2 separate regions of the Homo sapiens genome follow, and region 2 is linked to region 1. Evidence: fine-mapped expression QTL. A gene starts in region 1. The other region holds a variant in brackets. All regions are shown on one strand. Distances are from middle to middle.

Region 1 (4,395 bases):
ATATGTTTAAGGACCGGGCGTGGTGGCTCACGCCTGTAATCCTAGCACTTTGGGAGGCCGAGGCTGGCGGATCACTCGAGGTCAGGAGTTCGAGACCCGCCTGGCCAACATGGTGAAACCCTGTCTCTTCTAAAAATACAAAATTAGCTGGGTGTAGTGGGGCATGTCTGTAATCCCAACTGCCCGGGAGGCTGAGGTGGGAGAATAGCTTGAATCGGGGAGGTGGAGGTTGCAGTGAGCCGAGATCGCGCCACTGCACTCCAGCCTGGTAACAGAGCAAGACTCTGTCTCAAGAAAAAAAAGAAAAGAAAAAGAAAAAAAGCTTGCAGTTCCATAAATTCATGAAATAGTTCTTAAAGCTTCTTATTCATGTAAGGTCTCATCCCAATACAGACATTTGTTATAATACCAAAAATGCTTTCCTGAAAAATCTTACTTTCTGCAAGATACATAAAAATAAGAGGTGCTTATGCAATCAACAGGATTAAGGGATAGACCATTCAAAACCTACAGAACATTATAACCAGGACAAAATAAAACCAGTACCATTTCTAATAAAAATACTACCTTTGAATCTCTACTAGCATAACCTTAAACCCCAGGGCTTGTCCTTTTTCCTTGAGATGTAGTCTTTAAAAGCACTGCTTCTCATAAACCGTTTTAATCAAAATAAAAAATCAGATCCATGACATAGCCTTCTTCATCAATCCATTGTTTTAACATAGGGAGAATGTAGCTTCTTCATGTGCATTTTTCAGCTTTCTCAGACAGCTTAACTTCAGGGGCTTCCCGCTGCACTTACAATAGAACTCAAGGTCTTACTTTTTGTGGTCCAGAACAGCGCTGTCCAACAGAACTTTCTGTAATGATAGAAATGTCCTATATCTGCACTATCTAAAATGGTAGCTGCAGCCACATGTGATGATTGAGCACTTGAAATGTGGTTAGTGCAACGGAGAAACTGAATTTTTATTTAATCTTACTTTATTTTAACTCAAATTTAAATAGCCACATGTGGTGAGTGACTAACACATTGGACAATACAGCTCTAGGGCTTATCTTCTTACCAACTACACTATGTCTTGCAATTTCTTGCCATCTAGGTAGCCAACATGAGGAGGTCTATAAGATATCCCACCACACACACCCGCATCCACATTACTTTTTCATTCTCATTTTTCATGACGCTCCCACTCTTTGTCTACTTTCTGATTATGATTTTTAAATTCCTCTAATATGCCATTTTATTTCTATCTTCTGGGCCGAAGAAACATGCTGTTCTCTCTGCCCTCCTCGCCCTAATCCTTAACCTAACTTCTACTCATTTTTCAGGTCTCAGCGAAAGGGTCACTTTCTCCAAAAAGCCTCCGCTAACCCCCGACAACCTATATTAGGTTCTTCCCACTCTTCTGTTGTCTGCCTAGAACTCTTTTCCTTGCTAACACTTAAAATTTGTGATCGTCAGTTTATCTATGTTTACCGACTTTCTTGACTGCAGAAACTGAATCTGTTTTGTTTACCACTGCATCTTGGTACCTAACGGAGTGCTTGGCGCACAGTATTTGTGAGATGGAAAAATGAGAGACTGGGCCACATCATCAGGACATCCGACCTCCACCAACCAGAACTTAAAAATCCTCCTAGCCATACCACAAGGCAGATCCGCGTCCTCGCTCCCCAAGCAAAGTTGGCCTCAACTGATCTGGAGCAAGGACGCCTCAGCTCAGTACGCCGCTCCCTCCCTCCTCTCCAGCCAGGGAAGGGATGCCTACGTAACCTCGGCTTCATCCCTTCTTCAAAGGGGAATGAGGCAGCGGTAGAGCCACAGTGCGCATCGGCCACCACATACCTTAGACATCGAGGACGTAGCCATGGTCTTACTGACTCTGCGTATTCCAGATGCACTCGGGATTTCCCGCGCGCCCTCGCGGCTGCAGGGCAGAGGTTAGTGGCGAGCCACACGGCTCCTTGATTGGCTGGCATCACCCTCCGGGGCGGGTTTCCGGCGCGGGGAGGCGGGTCGTATAAGGAGGTGGGGCGAGGCCGGAACTGGCGGACTGCGGCGCACTTCCGTAGAGGTGGACATGGCGTGCGGCTTTCGCCGCGCTATTGCTTGCCAGGTATGGATCCCGGAGCGCGCAGAGGAGTCCCTGAGGAGCTAGGGACCCCAAAGGCCTTTCACCGCTGCGGGCCAGTCCTCAGTCAGCTGGAGGGTGGGTCCCACGGAATCCTGTTAGTTTCTACCACCTCCTCCCCCTTCTCTGGAGCTGGTGGAGCTTCAGAAGTCCTGTGGAGCGTCGGCTGGGATCAGTTTGTCTCGGTGAAAAGTAAACTTTGAAAGGTACCTGGTGCTTTCTTCTCTCCTTCCCACCCCACAGCTATGAATGCTTTACCTGGGTGGCGGCAAGTCATTAGACCATGATTAGACCCCATAGAAGTTAGTGTTCTTTACACTTTAGTGACATTGATGATGGATCTGGATTGTTCTTCAGAAGGACCTCATTTTAAAGCTGCTTATTTCTCTTGCAGTCACTTAGGCAGCCTACCCTAGAATTGTTTTTGGTAACGCCCAAAGATATAAGAGCTATCTGAGACTCAGTTTTTCTTGGTTCAGGGTCGTATTTGAACAGCTCTGTTGTGAGGAAGGGCTTACAAAATTGCAATATAATTGCTTTGTTTTGTTTTTCCTTTTTGTGGAGAACGGGGTCTCGCCGTATTGCCCAGGCAGGCCTCAAACTCCTGGGCTCAAGCTGTCCTCCCTCCTCTGCTTCCCTAAGAGCCGGGATTACAGGCCTGAGCCACCGCGCTGGGCAAAATTGCAGTATAAATGTGGAATTAATCAAAAAGAATTTTTAAGACTCATTGGCCACCCTTGCAAGGAAACTTTCTATTGTGGTCTTGGCTAACCCATTTCCTTCTGATTAATGGATGTACTAGTGGACGTAATTAGCCTGGTGTATAATTTATCTTGGCTCATTTTTACAGTATTTCTAGACATTTGTGGGGAAATCCCTCTGCCTTGTCTTTATGTTTATAGATGTACTGCCCTGTCCGGTGATAATTCGCCAAATATCACCAACATGACATTTTGTTAAGACAGCTGAATTTATTGCTCACTGGGATAAGGAAGAACACCACTGAGAGCTTTGGTAGTGTATTAAACTGGGAAAGCAAGGTCAGATTTTACTGATGGGTATGGCTTAAGGCTGGTCTTTCAGAGGGAGAGGGTAGGAGGGTGTTGGAGGAAGATGGCTTGATTAGGGTTGGACTCTGATCTGATACAGCGGTTTAAGATTGATAGGAAAAGCAAAGAGTGCAAGAAGCCTTAAGGCATAAACTATTGAGGTTTTCTATTGGAAGAACTAATAGGCCTGGCATGTGGTTCATGCCTATAATCCCAGCACTTTGGGAGGCCAAGGTGGGAGGATGGCTTGAGCCCAGGAGTTCGAGACCAGCGTGGACAACATAGGTAGACCCCGTCTCAACAAAATTTTTTTTAAAAAGTAGCCAGGCATGATGGTGCACCTCTGTAGTCCTAGCTGCTTGAAAGGCTGAGTCTGGAGGATCACTTGGACGGACCCACGAGTTTGAAGCTACAGTGAGCTATGATTGTGCCACTGCACTCCAGGGTGGGTGACAGAGCGAGACCCTGTAAACAAAAAATAAAAATAAAAAACGTGAAAAGCTAATAGATTTCTCATGAAGTTCTTATAATGAATGATTAAGTTATTTGGGCAGAAGTCTTCTAGAACAGTAAAGTTATGCTAATGAAGACAAAAAATAATAAATTCATGTTAATGTAGACAGTAAACCATATCAGGGAAGGTAGTTTTGGACCTTAGTATCTAAGCTGTGTGTAAGGGTGGACGTTTTCCATTCTTAGCCCTTAAGTAAAGATAGTGCCATGATGAGAAACAAATTGTGTTTAGTTTTGCAAAGGCTGTGTTCTTTGTAAAGACTGTAAATTGGACCAGGCATGGTGGCTCACACTTGTAATCCCAGAACTTTGAGAGGCCGAGGTGGGAGGATCCCTTGAACTGAGACGTTCAAGACCAGCCTGGGCAACATAGGGAGACCCCCATCTCTATAAAGAAATAAAAAACAAAACTTAGGTGTAGTGGCACACACCTGTGGTCCCAGCTGCTTGGGAAGCTGAGGTGGGAGGATCGTTTGGGCCCAGGTGGCTGAAACTAGCAAGCTTTGATTGCACCGCTGCACTTCAGCCTGGGGGACAAAGTGAGTCCCTGTCTCAAAAAAAAGAAAAAGATAAGTTGGAGAAACAAGAACTAATATATTGAGTATATATTTGTGCTAGTTACTACACATTCACATTTAAGCTCATGGCAACCCTGTGATATAGAAGTATTAACCTTATTATATAATTGAGTCAGTTGA
Region 2 (4,395 bases), 130 kb before region 1:
GTGTGGTGGTGTGCACCTGTGGTCCCAGCTACTCAGGAGCCTGAAGCAGGATAATCGCTTGAACCCGTGAGGCAGAGGCTGCAGTGAGCCAGGATCGCACCACTGCCCTCCAGCCTGGGTGACAGAGAGAGACTCTGTCTCAAAAAAAAAAAAAAAGATTTTTGGTTGCAAACAACAGAATCCACTCTTGCTAGTTTAAAAATAAAATGAACCGGGCGTGGTGGCTCACGCCTGTAATCCCAGCACTTTGGGAGGCCGAGGTGGGCGGATCATCTGAGGTCAGGAGTTCAAAACCAGCCCGGTCAACATGGTGAAACCCCATCTCTACTACAAATACAAAAAATAAGCTGGGCGTGGTGGCTTGTGCCTGTAGTCCTAGCTACTCAGGAGCCCAAGGCAGGAGAATCACTTGAACCAGAGAGGCAGAAGTTGCAGTGAGCTGACATCACGCCACTGTACTCCAACCTGGGTGACGGAGTGAGACTCCGTCTCAAAAAAAAAAAAAAGAAGGAAAATAAAATAAATTGAAAGTATTAAAGGGTATTAGATAGCACATAGACTGTCTGGAAGGGCCAGAGAATCATGTTCTGGGCTACTTGGCAGGAAGTTATATCCAAATCATACTGCTGGACTGTTATAGAAGAGAACGCCGCTGGCGTTGGCACTGTGGCTGCACTAACTCTCTGCTGGGGATACCAACACTGGTGCTGGGCCATTTCTGTGCCACTGGCAAGCTCCATAGCTTCACCAGAAAACAGATTCTGCATGACACCTGCTTTCTCATGGTTTTTTCTTCTGCATTCAGTGTTGCATGGCTACATCTGATTGCAGAAACTAGGTCACATGCTTGCATCTTGGCCGCAAATAAGACTAGAATAGAGAGTTCTAGTTTCACCTTGAAAAACAGAACTCAAAATATAGAAATTCCCTTGATATTGGAAGGGCTTTTAAGAGATGATAAGAAGCCACAAACATAAAAAGTGTCTGCTAGGGCAGGCACAAAATGATTAGGCCACCAAACCCTTGAAAAGCAGCAGGAGGCCTCTGTTTGCAAGGAGACTTCTGTTCATGATTGGAACAGAAAACAGCCATAAAAGGATTTTTCTGTAACAAAAAAAAAGTCTTGCAGGAGGCACTCAATCTATAAATTGTTTTTTTCCCACCAAATGCAAGGAGAGATTCAAGGTCTCTCCCTCACACCTTGGCTTTGGCAGGTATTCCCAGAAGCTTTGCAGACATTATTAGCACACTGGAGGACAGTCATATCTCCACCTTGACACAGATTTGGAAAAGAGTAGGCAGAAAAAAAATGAAAGCAATTTAAATGTAGTTCTTAACATTTGTGTGGTGCAAAGCAAAAGATCTCCATACCAGAGTTTAAGTAACTGCAGACAGAGAGACTGAGAACTCTATAATCAGTGGGTCCCATCAGTTGAGAGTGCTATGGACCAGCACAGAAGTAGATCAGCAAAAGGCACAGAATCTGGACAATATAGGAACAAATTCTGGAACTGAACTAGGACAGTGACATTACCTTAGCCAAAATCCTCTAAGGCAGAAATGCTCAATAGATTTTATCTTACGTACCAAGATCTATGGTTGTGGCAACCTCAGTTACCTTGTTAAAGACTACCAAGAGGCTGGGTGTGGTGGCTTACGCCTGTAATCCCAGCATTTTGGGACGCCGAGGCGGGCAGATCACCTGAGGTCGGGAGTTTGAGACCAGCCTGACAAAATGGAGAAACCCCGTCTCTACTAAAAATACAAAATTAGCTGGGTGTGATGGCGCATGCCTGTAATCCCAGCTACTCAGGAGGCTGAAGCAGGAGAATCGCTTGAACCCAGGAGGTGGAGGTTGTGGTGAGCGGAGATCACGCCATTGCACTCCAGACTCCAGCCTGGGCAACAAGAGCGAAACTCTGTCTCAAAAAAAAAAAAAAAAAGACCACCAAGAAAAATGTCCTTATGTAAACCCATTTTCACATGGTTGATACTTATAAGGTTGATACTTACAATTTCGTATTCTACCTTTTTCCTCATTCATTGAATCAAAAACGTCTTTTCATGTTGTTTAATCTTGTTAATTATCCCTTTTAACATCTGCATAGTATTCCACCAGCTGATGCACTCTAATTTACTCAACTATTTCTCCATTATTTTATACTAGGATTAGCTCTAATAATTTGAGAAAGATAAGTAGAATTTTTAAAATAAATTCTTTCTGTTATTCTAAAGAGATTAGCACAGAAATAGTACCTGAGCTTTTCACGGATATGGTCATGTCAACCTTGGGCCTATAGAGATTCCACAAGTACCTTTAAAGGAAAAGTGGCTTTATGAGAAATCAGGCTCCATACTTTCTTGGAAACTTTAAGCAGAAAGACTTTAGGAAGTCCTGACATATGTTCCCAAGATGGCAACTACATACTACAATAAGACCTCTCTTCCTGAACTGAATATCTCTAAGATATCCTTGGGGAAAGAGACCCAGAATGGGGCTGGCTC[T/C]CATTTGCAGTTCTGAAAACCACTCACCTTGAAAGCTCAGTCTCCGGAGTCTGGATAATTAGTGGCGAGAATGCCGAAAGCTGCTCAGCCTGTTGTGGGTTTTGAGATAAAACCTCAATTTCCATAATCGTCATAAAGAGCAGAATAGTCTTTCTACCCCAAAATATATTCAATATGAATTGTGAAGTGTCTTAGGAAGAATTTGCATGCAAGGAACAGAATTCCACTAACTCAAATAAAAAGAGGGTTGATTGAAAGGCAGAGGTTATTATGGGGGTCACAGTAAGCCAGCGCTGGAGATACAGCTGCTGGGCATTATAGGGCCAAGAAGGGGATTATGCAGATTTTATTTCTCTCTCTCTCTCTCCTCTGCCTTTTGAGGTACATGGCCTCTCTATTTGACTCTGAGTATCAGTCGGCCCCATCTTTGTGCTCTTTTGTTTGCAGATGAGCTTTTTCTGCTGACTCATGGTTTCTCAGCTTCCCTTCACTGTGGCTAGCATGAGGTTTTGGCCTGCTGTGGCAGGCCAGCTGGGCATGACCTTGCAGCTTGGCTCCACACAGCTAAATGACTCAGCCTCTTTGTCCCTATTCCAAATTCCTGGGAGAGAATTCGATCAACCCAGTTTGAGTCAGATGTCTACTCCTGGGTCAGTAACTGAGACTGATGGGGCACAGTCACATGGCAGGTAGTACTCTCTCTTCCAAGTTAGGAGCGGGGTAGAGTCTCCAAGGCAGTATATGGGTAGGGAGGAGGGAATGTTTGACATCTCTGGGGCAGATATGGGGCTGAGAGAGGCATGCACGGTTGTGATTAAAAAAAAATGCATGGGGTTTGGAAAAAAAAAATCTGCCATTTCGTAGTCATGAAACTATAGACAACTTTCCTAATCTTCCAAAGACTCATGTCCTTAATATGTAAACTGAACAAAATGACCTCACAGCTCTCAGGATCTATTACTGCTATTTTCATTTTAGGAATCTCATAATGTAAGGAATGACCAACTCTAATATCGACAATTTGGCAGGTTTTATATGAACAAACATTGAAAAAATTGTCTTTGCAGTAAGTCCAATGGTGTATTATTACCAACGTTACCATTACTGTAAACAGTTTTGGAAGGCTGCTCACATGTGCTAACAATGTTGAAGTCCCCAGCTAGGCATTCAGCAAATGTTTCTTGCTTAGGGGGGATTTCTAAAGGAAGAGGAAAGCAGACCTTCCTCTGAGGTTTGCCTGTTAAGGTGTTAGAGGCTTGAAAAAGTAATGTGGTGAATAGATGCCTCCATTTCAACAGAAGATTCACTCAGTTCTAATGCTGAGGGTGAGCAATGCTCTAAAATGCATTGTTGGTGAACTGCTGCAAATAAAGAAAAAAGACTATGTTAATTGAAATTTCTATCTATGCCAAATTAATACAACTATCCTGCAGTGTATGAAACTGAGGCATTCCTGTAAAGTTGTCTACAAAGCAAGATTAGTTTTTCCCCATTGAAATCCATTGTGGCATTGAACGTTTAGTATGTTCCTATGAAGAAAGGAAGGATCCAAAGGGAAACACTTAGAAAAGTAACAATTATCCTGGTGAGGATCTTAATTTCTCAACCTACTCAAGTTTCTTTTAAAAATCTGGGCATCCGGCTGGATGTGGTGGCTCACGTCTGTAATCCAAGCACTTTGGCGGTGGAGGAGGGGTGGGGAGCGTGGATCACGAGGTCAGGAGTTCGAGCCTGGCCAACATGGTGAAACCCTGTCTCTACTAAAAATACAAAAACTAACCAGGTGTGGTGGCACGTGCCTGTAGTCCCAGCTACCCAGGAGGCTGAGGCAGGACAATTGCTGGAACCCAGGAGGCAGAGGTTGCAGTGAGCCAAGATGGCGCCACTGCA

Evidence for each region. PIP is the estimated chance that this variant, and not a neighbour inherited with it, causes the effect.
Region 2: its variant is the best candidate, but not a certain one, in a credible set for the expression of ORC3 in whole blood (TOPMed, PIP 0.60).

Annotation. Positions count from the first base shown.
Region 1 is chr6:87,587,647-87,592,041 of GRCh38, reverse strand. It overlaps ORC3 (origin recognition complex subunit 3), which reads right to left and starts at 1,907. Exons shown (of 20, transcript NM_012381.4): 1 at 1,850-1,907. The coding sequence starts at 1,873. It overlaps RARS2 (arginyl-tRNA synthetase 2, mitochondrial), which reads left to right and starts at 2,055. Exons shown (of 20, transcript NM_020320.5): 1 at 2,055-2,120. The coding sequence starts at 2,085. RefSeq lists enhancers at 1-89, 90-590, 1,971-2,200, 1,964-2,925.
Region 2 is chr6:87,722,060-87,726,454 of GRCh38, reverse strand. No RefSeq gene overlaps it. Among named protein-coding and RNA genes, the nearest start is that of AKIRIN2, 22 kb to the right of the region's middle. RefSeq lists enhancers at 570-629, 1,320-1,429. The variant T/C (reference allele first, on the strand shown) is at 2,506.